Regions from separate parts of the Homo sapiens genome. Here region 2 is linked to region 1. Evidence: fine-mapped expression QTL. A gene starts in region 1. The other region holds a variant in brackets. All regions are shown on one strand. Distances are between the middles of the regions.

Region 1 (8,762 bases):
TGATTCAAGATCTGGTGATCTGCTGTTTCTCTGGTTCTAGAACTGACTTACAAGTGCCTTCTGATTCTAGACCTCATTCCGTAAGTTCCCTTGGCTCTAGACTTCATCATTTCCAGCTCCTCCTCACTCAAGATCTGACTCCAAATTACCCTGGGTCTAGAATTCAGCCTTCAAATATCTTCTGATTTTAGACTTTGCCTTATACATTTCTCTGGTTTTAGATCTTACCACCCTCAACTCCTTCTGATTCTAGATCTTATGGTTCCCAAATCTCTCTGGTTCTAGAACTCAGATTTTAGGCTTTTGTTTTTCCTTTTTTTTGTTAAAAAAAAAAAAATAGAGACGGGGTTTCACCATGTTGCCCAGGCTGGTCGCGAACTACTGAGCTCAAGCAATTCTCCCTCCTTGGCCTCACCAAAGTGCTGGGACTACAGGCATGAGCCACTGAGCCCAGCCAGGCTTTTTCTAATTCTATGCTTTATTCTATAAATTCCTCTGCTTCTAAGCCTCACAGCTTCCAACTGCCTTTGATTTCAGATCCAAATTCCTCTGATTCTATAATTCAGCCTCCAAATGCTTCTGATTCTGGAATCTAGACTTTTCCCTAAAGATTCCTCTGGTTCTGAATCTTATAACCTCAACTCCCTAATTCCAGACCCCAGCCTCCTAAATCTATTCTGGGCTTCCCACCCCACTGAACTTACCCAATTCCTTCTTTCAGTCTTAAGTTTTCCCATTCTAAACCCCTACCCTCTAGGCTGTGCTGCTCCTGGACTTCATGCCTCTCCATTCTCATTGCCTACAATCTCTGTGCCCCAGAACCCCCTCCACTTCCCACCCCAGCCCTCCAGACATGCACTTACCTTGACTTTACCCCACATGTTTGGGGCACCTGGGGCTCCCTCACCCCTTGGGTGGTTTGCAATCTGAAGACTTCTCCAGCCACACAGGCACATGCACAGGCACGGTGCTGTCTGCATATTGCCAGGTGGGGAGAGAAGCCAGGACCCCTCAGCTGTCTGCCACCATCTATGTGCCTCCCTTACCCCCCAGCTTTCTTTCTACAGATGGTGCTACTCTTGGTCTCCCACAGGAAAAGGCCTCCCCCCTTCTTAGCCCCATTTACCCCGTTTGTGGAAGGCACTGCTCGCTCTGTTTTGTCAGAGAGTGGCCTATCCAGATTGGTGCTATGGGGGGGTCTGACCCCTCCCTCCTCCCTCTGGAGGTGATGTGGGCCCTCAATGGAGGGAATTGTGCTGGGCTAGGGAAAGGGGAGGGACTAGACTGGCCACACTGGCTCTGAAACTCACCAATCTCTATACACCATAAAGACCTCACCTTGGTAGGCACCAGAGCTCTGCGTGTTGACTCATCTTTTGGATCTCCTCTGGGAGTGTGGGTGCACTGGTGGCTGAGTGTCTTTTTTTTTTTCCTTCCTTCCTTCCTTCCTTCCTTCCTTCCTTCCTTCCTTCCTTCCGCTCTCTCTCTTTCTTTTCTTTTTTTTTTTTTCTTGGAGTCTCACTCTGTTGCCCAGGCTGGAGTGCAGTGGCACAATCTCTGCTCACTGCAACCTCCACTACCCAGGTTCAAGCGATTCTCCTGCCTCCGTCTCCCAAGTAGCTGGGATTTCAGGCATGTGCCACCACACCCAGCTAATTTTTGTGTTTTTAATAGAGATGGGGTTTCACCACATTGGTCAGGCTGGTCTCGAACTCCTGAACTCAGGTAATCTGCCCGCCTCGGCCTCCCAAAGTGCTGGGATTGCAGGCATGAGCCACCATGCCAGGCCCTTTCTTTCTTTCGAGACAGGGTCTCACTATCTCACCCAAGCTGGAGTGCAGTGGTGTGATCACGGCTCACTGCAGCCTCCTGGGCTCAAGCAATCCTCCCATCTCACCCTTCCCGGTAGCTGGGACTACAGGTGCATGACACGAGGCCCAGCTAATTATTTTCATTTTTTTGTAGAGACAGAGCCTTACCATGTTGCCCAGGCTGGTCTCAAACTCCTGGGTTTAAGCGATCCTCCTGCCTCAGCCTCCCAAAGTTCTAGGATTATAGGCTTGAGCCACTGCACCAGCCCCATGTTACTTTCTGATTCTGTGTATCTGTATGTGTGTGTGTGTGTGCATGCACACGAGTGTGTGCACAGTGTCATTCTGTGTATGTGTATGGGTCTTTGTCACATTCTGTGAACCTGTGTTGCAGCAGGTGGGTGGGGTTGTGATTCCTTCTACAAGTGCATATTAGTATCTGGGTGAAGTGATTCTGCCTTATGTGTGTTTCTGGTTATTTTGGGTTTCTGTGTTTCTGAGTGTGGAAGGTGCTGTGATTTTTTTTTTTTTTTTTTGCCTATGTATGTCTGTATGATGTGATTCTGTGTACATGTGTGGGACTGCTTGATGCTATAATTCTGGGTACCAATGTGTGTGTGACATGATTGCCCATAGTTAAGTGAGCATGTGTGTGCAAGAGTGTGTGTCCATGGACTCATGTGCAGGTGGGTGTGTCTGTTGTCATGTACGTCACTCTCATAACCCCCCATACAGGGTTGCACATAGGAATCTCTTCAAGGGAAGAAAAACACTCTCAAGCCTTTGCACTTCCTATTCTTCTGCCTGAAATGCCTCTCTCCCTTCCCCTCTCCCCTCACTTGGTTACCTCCTACTCATATTTCACATCTTGGTTTAGGTAACAGCTACTCCAGGAAGCCTTCCCTGCCTGCTCCAATTGGGTAAAGTGCCCCTAAAAGCTCCCCTTGGAAGCCCCCTCCCATCACAGCACTAGGCACTCTGCCCAACTCTGAATATTTGTTTTGTTTTATTTGTTTTTTGAGACAGAGTCTCACTCTGTAGCCCAGGCTGTCGTGCAGTGGCGCGATCTCGGCTCACTGCAGCCTCCGCCTCCTAGGTTCAAGCAATTCTCCTGCCTCAACCTCCCTAATAACTGGGACTATAGGTGCGCACCATCATGCCCAGCTAAATTTTTGTATTTCTGGTAGTGACGGGGTTTTGCCATGTTGGCCAGGCTGGTCTTGAACTTCTGACCTCAAGTGATCTGCCTGCTTTGGCCTCCCAAAGTGCTTCGATTACAGGCATGAGCTACCATACCCAGCCCACTTTGAGTATTTGTGATGGAGTGAATATAAAAGTACTACTCTGTGTCAGGCTCCCTGACAAATGCTGTACTCATGTTGTCGAACTCTCCTCTAATCCTGTATGATGGGGATAATTATTATCCCCACTTTACAGAGGTTGAAACTGAGGCTTAGAAGAGGGTGATCACTTGCCCAAGGTCACAGTGTCAGGAAGGATTCCGCTGGACTCGAAACCAGAATTCAAATCCACTATGGCAGCTCCTTTTCCCCCAACCCCAAAACAAACAATACGAACAAACAAAAGAAAAATTTACTAACCCACCAAGATGGGCTCTGGCACCTACAGAGGCAGTAGAGTGGCAATGAAGGACATAGGAATTAGATGGGATTCCTGATCCTGGCTCTGTCACCTTCTTATGTTGTTGTGACCTTCGTCAAACACCTCTGCAAGTCTGTGTCTTTATCTGTAAAATGGAGATGATACTAATATCTGCCCTTTAGGGTGATTGTTGGTTGTGCTGGGGGCCAGTAGGAGAGATGGGGTTGGACTAACAAGAGGTTTGGGAGTGGGATAGATAGGTTTAGGAGTGTGCTTCCAGGAGGGGATCCAGAGCCTTACAGGACTTAGTGCTACATGAGGGCTTAGAAAGGACAGACTGGAAGCGTGTACGGCGGGTGGGGATTGGCAAAGGGGTGGAATCTGGATATTAGACTATTCAGCCTGAGGTTAAGACTATTCAGGGTCTCCTAATCAGGAGTTTGGGTTTTCTCCTAAGGGTGCTGGGGCCATGGAAGCCTGGGAGCGAGAGTGTGCCATGGTTTTATCATGTCTTAGAAAGATCCCTCGGCCGGGCACGGTGGCTCACGCCTGTAATCCCAGCACTTTGGGAGGCCGAGGCGGGCGGATAGCTTGAGGTCGGCAGTTCGAGGCCAGCCTGGCCAACGTGGTGAAACCCGTTTCTACTAAAATACAAAAATTAGCCGGGCATGGTGGCGGGCGCCTGTAATCCCAGCTACTTGGGAGGCTGAGGCAGAAGAATCGCTTAAACCGGGAGGCGGAGGTTGCAGTGAGCCTAGATGGCGCCACTGCACTCCAGCCTGGGCGACAGAGGGAGACTCCCTCTCAAAAAAAAAAAAAAAAAAAAAAAAATGTGAAGGGTAAACTGGAGGGAGGCAGAGTGCATGCAATCAATGCTGTGATCTCAGACAAGAGAATCTGTAAAAACACAAACAGGAGAGTTTATTTGAAGATTCAGGATTTGGGAAGCTGAACACAGGAAGAAAGGAGATGGTGCAACACACTTCTAAGCCTTGCTCAGGACTTGAAATCCAGAGTGCCTTCAGTTAAAAACTCAAACACTGACCCTCAAGGTTGGACCCTTTTTGGCTTGAGAAACCACTAATTTTTCAGAGATGGGTAACTGAGACCCTAGAGAGGAAGGGAAGATTTGTTCAAGGTCACACAGGTAGTCGACAATAGGGCTCGACGCCCGGGTCCGGCTCCGCGTAGGGCATGGCGCTGCCTTGCAAAACAGCCACACCCGCCAGCGACATTCACAACCCACCCCCCAACCCTAGAGGACAGCGGGGAAATCCCACTTTCAGAACCGAGAAACTTTTTACAGCCTTGGAACACGGTAACTTTGGGAGGAGAGGCCACACCAGGTCTGTTTCCCCGCGCGCCCCTTCTCTCATTCCCTATTGGCTCTCTCTACCAGGGGTACCGTCTGGGGAACCTCTGGTCACCTTGTCCTCCGCGCGCTCTGTGGCGAAAGGGACCTGCGCAGGCGCGTGAAGGGCGCCTTCAGGGCCCGCGCTTTACGACACTTGTGCGGCAGCGGCGGCGGCCACCCGGCGCTCCTTCGCGACGGTTCGGCCGGGTGCCGCTGGCGGCCGTTGCCAGGGTAGGGGTCGCTTTGCGGCATGGCGATGGCGGAGGGCGAGAGGACTGAGTGTGCTGAGCCCCCCCGGGACGAACCCCCGGCTGATGGAGCTCTGAAGCGGGCAGAGGAGCTCAAGACTCAGGCCAATGACTACTTCAAAGGTGCGCCCGCCTGGCAGGGAGGGTGGACAGTGGCCCAGGCTGAGGGGTGCCGGGCCCGCGCGGAACCATAGCAACGCGGAGCTGCAGCCTGGGCGCGGGGCAGACACTACCAAGTGACCGGGCGTGGGGAGGCCCAGGATGGCGCTGCCAAGGAGCGACATAGGGGGCTTCGGAGAGTGATACCTAGGAGTGGCGTGCGGAGCGGGTGCTACTCAGTGGAGAGACTGAGGAGGGCGCCACCAATTGTGGGGCGAGAGGGGGACTGGAATGAGGGCGCTACCAAACGTGAGGCCTGTAGAGGGCGCTACCAGGCAGTGACATGTGGTGGGGGAGTGATTGATGGCGCTACCAAATGGGGAGTCCTGGGGTGGGTGCCGCCAAGTGGGGGGTAGAGGGGGCACAGCCCCAATAGAGAAGGCAATCGTGGGGGTGGGGAATGGATCATTAGATGGGGGGAACAAGGAAGTAGGAGATTTGGGCTGACCCGAGGAAAAGGAATGTGATGGTGGGGGCCTTGGGAGTAAGGGTGGGGATCCTTAAGAATAGTATCACTTAGAATATTGAGAGTCAAGTGTGGGGCACCCATTCATTCATTAATTCAACAAATATTTATTGAGTACCTGTTATGTGCCAAGGACTGTGCTTGACTTTGGGGATATAGCAGTGAATGAGACAGATGTGGCCCTGTCCTTAGCTTGTAATTTTGCAGGTGAACCAGACATGAAAAAAAAAAAAACAAAAAAAAACCATGTAAATAAGTAAAATACTTAAATTGTGATGAGTGCTTTGAAAGCAAACCAGCAGTGTGATGAAGTAGAGAATAAGGGTTGGAGGCTACTTTAGATAGGGTAGTGGGGGAAGGCCTTACTGAGCAGGAGGCGTTTAAGCTGAAACTCACAGAGGGAGAACTGGAGAGGAGTGTTCCAGGGAGGTAAAGCAGCCTGTGCAAAGGCCCTGGGATGGGGAATGAAAGGGTACTGGCATGGCTGGGGCTTTGGCTACTTAGGGGGAGACCAATAACAAGATGAGATTAGGACAGAGGCCAGATCATGCAGGGTCTCCGTGAGTCATTACAAAGACCAGTTTGGAATTTTTTTTTTTTTTTTTTTTTTGAGACGGGAGTTTTGCTCTTTTTGCCCAGGCTAGAGTGCAATGGCGCAATCTCGGCTCACTGCAACCTCCGCCTCCCTGGTTCAAGCGATTCTCCTGCCTCAGCCTCCCGAGTAGCTGGGATTATAGACGCACACCACCATGCCCAGATAATTTTTGTACTTTTAGTAGAGATGGGGTTTCGCCATGTTGGCCAGGCTGGTGTCGAACCTCTGACCGCAGGTGATCCGCCCATCTCGGCCTCTCAAAGTGCTGGGATTACAGGCATGAGCCACCACGCCCAGCCCTACAAGAAGACACATTAAGTAAATGGGCCAGTCTGGACTGGAGAAGAATTTGGGTGTGATCAAACTATGGTTGGGAATGGATGAGATCATCTAGTAAGAGGGTCTAGAGGGGGGACTTAGGACAGAACCCAAATGGAAGAGGGTGAGGCTAAGGAGGAGCACTTAGTGAGGTGGAAAGGAAGCCAGGAAAGGTGTCGGGAAGGCTGAGAGAAGGGAGCGCTTCTAGAACAAGGAGCTGGTGCCTTTAGTCCGATGCTGCCAAGGCAAGCACTGGCCATTGGCTTTGGCTCCATGGATGCTGGTAGTGATGTTGACAGGAGCAGTTATTGGGGAGTGATGGGGGTGATGCAGCCAGGAGGTGCTGAAGAGTGAATGGGAGGGGAGGAAGTGGAGACAGCAAATGTTAAGTGTTAGGAGTATTGGTTCTGAAGGGGAGTGGAGAAATGGGGGAGGGTGGTAAGACGAGAACGTGCACAGGAGTTCGAGACCAACCTGGCCAACATGGTGAAACGACGTCTCTGCTGAAAAAATTAGTTGGGTGTGGTGGCACACACCTGTAGTCCCAGCTACTTGGGAGGCTGAGGCAGGAGAATTGCTTGATCCTTGGAGGCAGAGGCTGCAGTGAGCCAAGATCACACCACTGCATTCCAGCCTGGGCAACAGACTCCGTCTCAAGAAAAAAAAAAAGAGAGAAGATGCAGTGTCAGGGAAAGATGGATTTTTTGTAAGGATGGAAGAGAGTAGAGTCCAATAGAGATGGAGAATTGATTCTGCACAGGAGAGGGGGGACTTGCAGCAGCAAAACCCTGGAGAAGGCGGAGGTGGGAAGGGTCTGGAGCCCTGGAAGAGACTTGGCCTCCAACGGGAGCAGAAGCAAAGTGTGGAGAAGCTCGATCCGGTGGGAGCCGTGAGAGGGAGGTAGGACCAGTGAGAGATGAGGCCAGAGGTAGAACCTTGGAAGTCAGATTGGGGAATATGGGTGTCATCCTGGGGGTGGTCGATGCCATGGGAAGTTTCAAGAGCGGGGTGCTGTGGTTCAGTTAGTGTTCAGAAAAGATCCCTGGCTGCCATGCAGAGACTGGACTCCAGGGTAAGACAGGAAGGAGTCTAGATTAGTGGACAGGTGAGGAGGGGTGGTGATCGCCAGCCAGGCTGGAGGGACAGAAATAGATTCAAGAAGTGTTTCAGGGAGGAAGTGAGAGTGGCTGCCTGGAGAGAGGGTGGACGGTACTCCAGGCAGGGAAAAAAAAAACAAAAACAGGTGGCAAAGGCCCAAAGGTGAGCAGAGCCAGGCATGGAGGCCATAAGTGGGGCCACAGCGTAGGAGGCTGGAGGAGGTTATGATGAGTTTGCAGGGAGTAGATTGCGCAGGGCTGTAGGAAGGAGCCAGGGCTTTCTGGGGTGGGGTGGCGGTGGGGGGTGGGGCTCTGGGGAGCCCTGGGAGGTTCTGAGTAGGGAAAGGACAGGGTCAGGTTTGTGTTTTAGGAACACCCCTCTGGAGGGGCAGGACAAGAGGCTGCGAGGCCAGGTGGAGGCTGAGCCAGGAACCTGGGCAGGAGAGGCCAGACCAGGGCTGGGTGGGGCTGGAGGGTGAGAAGGGAGTGGCTGAATCTGAGAGATGTTCAGGAGGCTGACTTGGCAGAATAAGTGAAGTGACTACCGGGCTTTGGGGGCTGAGGGATGGAGAGGAGTCCAGGATGAGGCTGTCTCAGCCAGGTGATGGGGTGGAAGGTGGAATTCCCTGGGATGGGAGCAGCCTGCATGGGGGTTGCTGCTGAGGCCGCATCAGAATTCTGGGCCACAGCAGCCATTGGGAGGAGCCTGTTGCCCCCCAGGACCTGGGATCCAGGCTCTCAGGAGTCCTGGGGCTGGGCAGGCAGCCAGAGGGGCCTGGCACTGAGCTGGCACGGAGGAGAACGGCCCTGCTGGCCCAGGCCCCTTGCTGTCTGTCAGGCAGTAGCAGGCACAGAGCCCCAGGCTCCAGGGCTGTGGGAATAACAATAAAAAAGAATAATGACAGCTCACCTTAATTGAGCCTTGTGGCCAGGTACGCTGTGGGGTTTAATCCTCCCCGGGGGCTGGGAGATGGCTAGGAGTGGCCCTGTTTGTTTTATAAAGGAAGCAAGGCTCGGAGAAGTGAAAAAACCACTCGCCCAAGGTCAGAGTGTGTGAGCAGCAGGGCCCGGATATCCCCTTCCTCGCCACGTGCTTGGCTCCCACGTTCAGG
Region 2 (8,762 bases), 49 kb before region 1:
ATTACAAGTGTGAACTACCACACCCAGCTCCCAGAGGAATCCTTATCAGGCACATGTTGTGTTCTGTCCTGCTCAAAACTCGGCCATGGCTCCCCAGTGCTCCCTGGGGAATGCCCGAGATTCTTTAATGGCTTTCAGACTTGGTTTGATCTCACCCCGATGCACCCCTCCACCATCACTTCCCATCTCCTCTCTTTATAATCCAGGCTGCAACCACTGTCTACCTGTCAGTTCCCTCAATGTGCCAAGCTCTCTTTTGCCTCCAAACTGTTGTATTATCTTCCCTTTGCCTACAATACTTTTCCCCCAGCCCTCTCATTCATGTATTTATTTATTTTACAGATGAGGTCTCACTCTGTTGCCCAGACTGGAGTGCAGTGGCACAATCATAGCTCATTGCAGCCTCCAGCTCCTGGGCTCAAGCAATCCTCCCGTCTCAGCCTCCCAAGTAACTGGGACTATAGGTGCACATCACCATGCCTGGCAAAGTTAAAAAAAAAAATTAAGAGATAGAGGCCGGGCCGGGCGCGGTGGCTCACGCCTGTAATCCCAGCACTTTGGGAGGCCGAGGCAGGTGGATCATGAGGTCAGGAGATCGAGACCATCCTGGCTAACAAGGTGAAACCCCGTCTCTACTAAAAATACAAAAAATTAGCCGGGCGCGGTAGCGGGCGCCTGTAGTCCCAGCTACTCGGGAGGCTGAGGCAGGAGAATGGCGTGAACCCGGGAAGCGGAGCTTGCAGTGAGCCGAGATTTCGCCACTGCAGTCCGCAGTCCAGCCTGGGCGACAGAGCGAGACTCCGTCTCAAAAAAAAAAAAAAAAAAAAAAAAAAAGAGATAGAGGCCGGGTGCAGTGGCTCATGCCTCTAATCCCAGCTCTTTGGGAGGTTGAGATGGGCGGATCACCTGAGGTCTGGATTTTGAGACCATTTTGGCCAACATGGTGAAACCCCATCTCTACTAAAAATACAAAAATTAGCCAGGCGTGATGTCAGATGCCTGTAATCCCAGCTACTAAGGAGGCCAAGGCAGGAGAATTGCTTGAACCTGGGAGGCAGAGGTTGCAGTGAGCCAAATCGCACCAATGAACTCCAGCCTAGGCGACAAGAGCAACACTCAGTCTCAAAAAATAAATAAATACATACATAAATAAAATAAAAATTAAGAGATGGGATCTTGCTATGTTGCCCAGGCTGGTCTCAAACTCCTGGCCTCAAACGATCCTCCCCCTTCAGCCTCCTGAGTCATTGAGATTACAGTTGAGAGCCACTGCACTCGGCTGTCCCCAACCCTCTCTCTGCTTGCCTCACTGTTATTCCTTCTTAAGTCTGCATCCAAATGCCCCTTCCACAATAAACCTTTCTGACAGCCCCGACAGGGTGGGTAAGGTGCTTCCACCAAGCTCCCACAGTTCCTGGCAGTTCAGACCACTCTACAATTTAATATTAAAAGGTCTTAAATTCCCACTTAACTTCAGTTCCAGGTACAAAACTTGTCTCTTCAAACAAGAACATATCCTTTAGCAAAAGTTGGAAATCATTTTAACGGACACATTTCCCTTATTGCCTTAGCTGCTGGGAACCTCTGAGCGAAGTTTAACGCTAACCTACATCGTAGAGAGACACCTGTTGCATCTCTGTGTGTAAAGTGTTAGTTCTATTTTAATGTTTGTTGAAATAGTGCCAGCTTTTCTTGGGCACTGTAAATCCCTCCGATTGGCTCTCTGCTGTGACTCCCTCATACCAAAATCAATGAGTTCTTCCACTGAATCTATCATCCAACTACTGCCCCCTCCAAACTCTTCCAACACACCCACTGGAACTCTCGTTGTCTTGTTAACAACCACTCCCCTTCCTCAGTTTCTCCCTTGAACATCTCTTCTACCCCATGTCCTTACCTAAACCCTAAGAAGCTCTAAGAACAATGCTTCCTCTGCAGCCCCTTCTACTATTTATTTATTTATTTATTTATTTAGAGACAGAGTCTTACTCTGTCACTCAGGCTGGAGTGCAATGGCATGATCTTGGCTCACTGCAACCTCTGCCTCCTGGGTTCAAGCGATTCTCCTGCCTCAGCCTCCCGAGTAGCTGGGATTACAAGGGTGTGCCACCACACCCGGCTAATTTTTGTATTTTTAGTAGAGATGGGGTTTCACCATGTTGGCCAGGCTGGTCTTGAACTCCTGACCTCAGGTGATCTGCCCGCCTCAGCCTCCCAAAGTGCTGGGATTACAGTCGTGAGCCACCATGGCCGGCCCCCCTTTATAATTCAGACTGCTCCTTTTCTAACATCCCACCTGCCTCTACACTGAGGGTTGAAAGCTGATTTCTCTATCAAGATTCTTTTGGGTGCAAGTATCTAAAATCCATTCAAACGAATCTAAGCACAAAGCAAATAAGGCAATAGTGAATGAAGCAATATTTGACAAAAGCAACAGCAAAAAAAAAAAAAAAAAAAAAAAAAAGCCCATTGTGGGTTTCATTTGAAAAATCCAAGAATTAAACTGGAGTTCAGGTATGGCTGGATCCAGGCACTCAAGTGCTGGTGTCAAAACTGCCTTTCACAATCGTTCATTTCTGCACAATCTCTTTTGCACTGAACCTCATCTCATAAAGCCTCTCCTCTCTTTGTGGCAGTGTGAGCCCCATCTGCTCCATCTGCCCAGCAATTCCAGCAGACATAGAAAATCCTCTTTCCTAATGGTTTCAGCAAATGTCTCAGGGTTGATTCTCATTGGGCTAAATTAGGTAACATGCCTTCCCTGAACCAATCACTGTGGCCAGGGAAGCAGACTCAACTGATTAGCCAGGTTTGGATCCTATGTCCATCCCTGGAGCTGGTGAAGGCAGAGCAGTGGCCAAGCCCTATTCAAATTAAATAGATGAAGAGGACAGAGAAGTGGTTTCCCAAAAGAAAACAGAGTGGGGAACTGGCGTGAGCCGGGGAGCCGTGTGGATTCCTGGAGGAAGAGTGTGCTAAGCTGTGGGAACAGCAAGTGCAAAGGCCCTAAGGTGAGCAACTTGCCTGGCAAGTTCAAGGTTCAACAAGGCCACTTCTGCTGTAGTATCCTCTTCCCTGCCAACCAAATCCAGAATAGTGGTCCAACACACACACACACACACACACACACACACACTCTGTTCCTTATCCAACTGTAATGCTTTCACCCTTGCTTGGTACCTTTGTACTTCTCCCTTCATAGTCGACTAGTTAAAAAAAAATACATTTCTCGGCTCTTTTTTGAAGTAGGTGTGATTGAGTTAAAACATATTTACTTGACATAAGCTTAATTATTCATCAATGGGAACCTGAAAAGGGAGTCAGAGAGGCCAAGAGGTTAGGGTGGAGTAGAGGGGGTAGGGAAGGTAAGCTGGGGTGCAGAGGGTGCAGACTGGAGGAATGGGGGCGAAGTGGGGTATGGGACTGGGGTGGCAGGGAGGGGCTGGGGAGAGAGAGAGAAGGGTAGGTGCCAGAGGGCCAAGGATTGTGGAACTGGGGTGGGGTTGGGAGTTGGGGGGTGGGGAGGAGATGTGGGGTACTCTGTGAATACCTTAGAAGGGATAGAGAAGGCAGGGCTAGGGGTTTGGAAGGGGTGGGATTGGAGGTCAGAGGGGCTCAACTGGGGTTAGGAAATGGAAAGGTGAGAAGAGGTGGGGGTTAGAGGCTGGGGACTGGGGTCCAGAGAGCAGAGTGAACTGAGTGGGTTCAGAAGAGTACTGGCGTTGGCACTTCAGAGGCTGGACTAGAGAAGGCGCGTTCAGCCGACGGTGCGGGATACACTGCCGAGGAAGTCCGCGGCGAGGGGCGTGGTTGGGGGGTGTGTATTACACGGTATCCCCCCCTTGCCTTTCCAAGTCTTTCCCTCTGGTTCCGCCTCCTTTTCAGGAGTGACATACCGTTGCCCAATCAGAGCCTCAGGCCTGGCGTGGCACAGCCAACCGCGCGGCGTGGGGAGGAGCTGGGGAGGGGGCTCGCAAGGCCGGGGAGGGGGCTAGGGGCCTCCGAGGGCTCCGGAGCGGCGACTGGCGAGCCATGGCGCTGGGGCTGCAGCGCGCAAGGTACTGAAGTTCGGGGGCAGGAGTTCTGGGAATTGGGGGGCTCTCCTCCTGGAGACCCCTGAGCTGGATTGTTGGGGGGGGTGGGGTTCGCGGGTGCGAGCCAAGAACGCCCCGGGGCGCGCAGTTGGAGGCACATCCCCACCGCACTCTCCACCCTTAGGGACTGCAGGGGTGGGGGATTCCCTACGTCTCTGGCTGCCCCGCCCCTCTGGCCAAGAGCGGCTTCGGGGTTCCCGATTTCTCGCTACCCAAGGCTCATTTACCCTCCTGGTTGGGGGTGGAACTTGGGATTCCTGATAAATTAGGGGTGATTGCATTTGAGCAGTCCCCAGGCTTCTGCGGGAGATATTCGCCCTCCACATATTGATCCCTCTGGCCTCTGAACCCCCCAAAATTGAGGGTATTCTTTGCCACCAGGTGCCTGGGATCCTAGGTGATATGGGATACCCCTAAATGGAGCCTTCCCACATATAGGGAGTCCCTTGGAATGGCATTCAGCTCCTGAGTTCAAGAGAGGAGAGATCTCCTCTAATAGTATGCTTCCTGACACAGTCTCCTAAACATTGGGTTTCCCTAGAAATGGGCAGAGGGGAGCCCCTTTCAGAAGCCGTCTGGGACCCTTCCCAAGAGACTTTTTGTATCCTTTCAAAAGCCAGAGTCACCCCCTTAAATAACAGGGAAACAAGCTGGACCCACTTCCCAAAGTCCAGCCCCTCATCTCACCCCTGCACCCCCATCCTGAGAGACAGGGGAGCCTCATCCAAGCTTTATTTTGGGGAGACTCCATGGCAGGGTGCTGTGAGCCTGCAGGCTGTGATGGGAACGCCCCCTGCCGCAGTACTCAGATGGGGTCATCCCGGGCAGAGGGTGGGTTTCTGGGTTCACTTGCCCAGCAGGTGCAGCTCTGCTGGAACACAGGGGAACCTGTGCCCTGGGGCCGCTGCCGGGGGGTTTTATCTGGCCATGTTCCCATGGGACCCTGGAAAATGTTCTAGGTCCTCAGCTTTCCCTGTCCAATGTGAGGCACCCAGTAAGCCTCACCCCCTTCCCTCCTCCCTGGCTTCTCAGGCCTGATTGGATCCATGCACACCCCATGTTTCTAACC[G/C]CCCCCATCCTCTCCCCTGTCCCCTACTCTATTCCAGGCCCTGGCTCTGGGCCTAACAAGGAACTCTATCCCACCCCTTTTGGGCCAGCTGTCGTTCCGCCCCTCTCAGCGCCCCCTCCTGGCTGGGTGGGGGCCCCTCTTGGCTGAGCTCGGGTGCCCCCCCTCCCCACCCAAGGCCGGCCCTTTCCTGTGGAGTCATCTCACCGCCGTGCGCACCCACTCGTAACTCGCACCCGGGTCCTGGCTGCACCGCATCCCCTCCTGCACCCCCTGGATGGCCCTTCAGCCAACGGGGGCCTGGGCGATGGTGAGTGGGCCCCCAACACCTCCTTTCCCCCTTCCCTTCCTCTAGCTGGGGCTGGCTGCCATCCCACTGTGGCCAAGGATGCTCTTGGGAAGTCCCTGGTGGGTACGGCTTGCAGCCCAGAGTGCCCAGTGAGGTAGTATTCCCGGAGAAGATAGGATTTTGGGGACCAGCACCCTACCAGATTACCATGTCCTTGAGAACAGGCAGAGTCGGGGGGCAGAGAGACTCCCCCAGACCCCCATGCCAAGTCCCTTTGCAAACCCAAACCCTGCCTCTGGTCTCTCAGGACACCTCTCTGCAATGCCAAAAGGCATCCTTGCCCAGCTACAACCTAAACCCCCACCCACCAAATCCTCTGTGCTTTTCGTAAGACGCCCCCCCCCAATACCCAGCTGGGTGTCAGAATAGAAAAGCCCAGAAGTAGCCCTGAATGTGGGCAGGGACTGCCTGCTTTTATTATGCCTTCCTCATGGGTGGCAAATTCTTCAGGGCAGGGAAGAGGTGAACTTCTCTCCTTCCTGGTTGGAGGGGGGCACTGGGCCCCAACCCCCATTCTCAGGCCTCACCCTGAGCCCGCCAGGCCCTGGCCCCACCCCCTGTTCTTGGCTGGAACACGGAGGAAGGGTGGCAGGGTTCCAGCTGCACGTCCCAAGCTGGGCAGAGTGCCAGGGGGCTGGACCAGGGCTGGGCATGGGGCCAGCTGGGGCGATCTGGAGGCAGCAGGGGTGTGACGGGGGAAGGGACCGAGGCTGCTAGGCAAAAGAGGGGTGGGGCAGGGGCCTCTTGGGTGGGGGCCACACCTGCCAAGAGCACAGGGCCCAAAGACAGGGTTCAAATCCCATCTCACCCACTTCCTGGTGGTGTGGAATTGTGTCAGTGACTGCCGCTCTGAGCCTCACTTTCAGATCCTGGAAATACGGGCAGGCCGGGTGCGGTGGCTCAGGCCTGTTATTCCAGCACTTTGGGAGGCTGAGGTGGGCGGATTGCTTGAGTTCAAGACCAGCCTGGGCAACATGGCAAAATCTCATCTATACTAGAAGTAAGCAAATTAGCCAGGCATGGTGGTGAGTGTCTGTAGTCCCAGCTACTCAGGAGGCTGAGGTGGGAGGATGGCTTGAGCCTGAGGCAGAGGTTGTAATGAGCCAAGATCAGGCCACTGCACTCCAGCCTGGACAACACAGCCGGACCTTGTCGCAAAAAAAAAAAAAATAGAAAAATAGAAAAAAAAAAGAAAACTGGGTATCACACTCCCTTTCCACCACCCCAGATCAAGATGAGGAGCCAGTAGTGAGGAAGCAGACGGTGGGGGGCGGGACACCCAACAGGTGTGCCACAAACTGAGCTCAAGTCAGAGTAGACAGACCTGGCTTGAATCCTGTCTCTGCTACTAAAAGCTGTGTGGCTTCAGTTTCATCACCTCTTTGGGCCTGCTTCCTCATCCGGAAAATGGGGAAAGTCATTGCAGGAACATGGTCGGATTCACTGAGAAGTGGTTGAACATAGTTCAGTGTCAATGGAGGGCGCTGGGTTACTTGGGCTGGGGATGCCATTGCTCCAAATCTCAGTTTCTGCCTCTTTAAAAGGAGAGATCACTTCTCCTGCTCAATAGGGTAGTAGTAAGGACTTAATGGGTTCTCTAGCTCCGTGAGTGTTCAACACACCAATGCTATCATTATTACAGTATCACTGTTATTTAATCCTCCTTTTAAGATGCTTGTGTAAAAACCATGTATGTAATTGCATGCACACACCACACTATGGGGCGTGTAGAGTAATCCACAGGTTACTGTAAAGCCCAAGAAGCTCCTAAGCCCATGCTTTCCATCTCTGATACGCACAGAGGGAGAACAGTAAGTCTAACCTTGGCCGGGCGCGGTGGCTCATGCCTGTAATCCCAACATTTTGGGAGTCCGAGGCAGACAGATCACCTGAGGTCAGGAGTTCGAGACCAGCCTGGCCAACATAGTGAAACCCTGTCTCTACTAAAAATACAAAAATTACCCAGGCATGGTGGCAGGAGCCTGTAATCCCAGCTACTCAGGAAGCTGAGGCAGGAGAATCGCTTGAAACTGGGAGGCAGAGGTGACAGTGAGCCAAGATCAAGCCACTGCACTCCAGCCTGGGCAACAGAGCAAGATTACGTTCACACAGCTTATAAGCAGTCACACAGCTTGTAAGTAGTGGAGCTTGTAAGTAGTAGCTTATAAGTAGTGGAGTTGATAAGTAGTAGAGTCAGGATTGGAACCCTGAGCCAGAGGAACTAGCCCCCAGTCTGTGTAATGGGAAAGACCCACACTTCCCAGTAGAACATCCAGAGGGCAGGCTGGGAGCTGGAAGGAGGGTCCCTCCGCAGCCACCAGCTGGCTCCTTCTATGGAAGAAGCAGCCCAGCCACAGAGGATTACAGAGCCCAGCTGCCTGGGAGGTGGGGCACTGGCCCCACCTCCCTGCCAGTTCCCACTCCCTGTTCCCTGTCGGGCCCCCAGCTCCGTGAGGCCCTCTCGCCCCCACCCTCTGGGCAGGAAGACAAACAGGGCTGGAACAGAACAGGACGGAATGTCCTCTCAGGCAGGCAGGACTGAGGCCCCTGCCCCCACCAGCCAGGAAGGAGGGGACGGGGACAGGGGCCGTATCTCCCCTGCTCCAACCCTCCATCCAAACTGCCCCCTTCTGTGCCTCCCTCCCTGCTGTACTGAGGATTTTATTTTCCTTCTGTCTCCAGACAGGAAAATATCCCCTTGCCCTGGGGGGTGGGGCCGCAGGTCTCTTGCCTGAGGCTGGGGTTGATGCCACCCCAGAAGCACCCTCTGCTCTTGAATTTAAGAAGGGACAGTGTCCCCTCCTAGAGGTTCTGCTTCCCTCGGATGGGTCCCAAGGAGGGGATGAGAAAAAGCCTGAAGACTGGAAACTCACCGCCCAGATTCAAATCCCAGCTCAGCCAGTTGTTGGCTTTGGGGCTTCTTGGGCAAGGACTTCACCTTTCAGAAGCTGTTTCCCCACTGTAAAGTGGAAGTTTAAAATGCCCCCCTCCGCCGGGCATGGTGGCTCACGCCTGTAATCCCAGCACTTTGGGAGGCTGAGGTGGGCAGATCACTTGAGGTCAAGAGTTCGAGAGCAGCCTGGCCAACATAGCGAAACCCCGTCTCTACTAAAAATACAAAAATTAGCCGGGCGTGGTGGCAGATGTCTGTAATCCCAGCTACTCGGGAGGCTGAGGCAGGAGAATTGAACCCGGCAGGCGGAGGCTGCAGTGAGCCAAGATCGTGCCATTATACTCCAGCCTGGCTGACACA

The links. PIP is the estimated chance that this variant, and not a neighbour inherited with it, causes the effect.
Region 2: its variant is fine-mapped to the expression of PPP5C in aorta (GTEx, PIP above 0.99).

Annotation. Positions count from the first base shown.
Region 1 is chr19:46,342,080-46,350,841 of GRCh38, forward strand. It overlaps PPP5C (protein phosphatase 5 catalytic subunit), which reads left to right and starts at 5,008. Exons shown (of 13, transcript NM_006247.4): 1 at 5,008-5,138. The coding sequence starts at 5,018. It overlaps HIF3A (hypoxia inducible factor 3 subunit alpha), which reads left to right. Exons shown (of 15, transcript NM_152795.4): 15 at 1-1,354. RefSeq lists enhancers at 4,846-5,025, 5,126-5,255, 7,502-7,561, 8,382-8,621, 8,668-8,762 and a silencer at 7,922-7,981.
Region 2 is chr19:46,293,045-46,301,806 of GRCh38, forward strand. It overlaps HIF3A (hypoxia inducible factor 3 subunit alpha), which reads left to right and starts at 3,998. Exons shown (of 15, transcript NM_152795.4): 1 at 3,998-4,058. The coding sequence starts at 4,033. The variant G/C (reference allele first, on the strand shown) is at 5,164.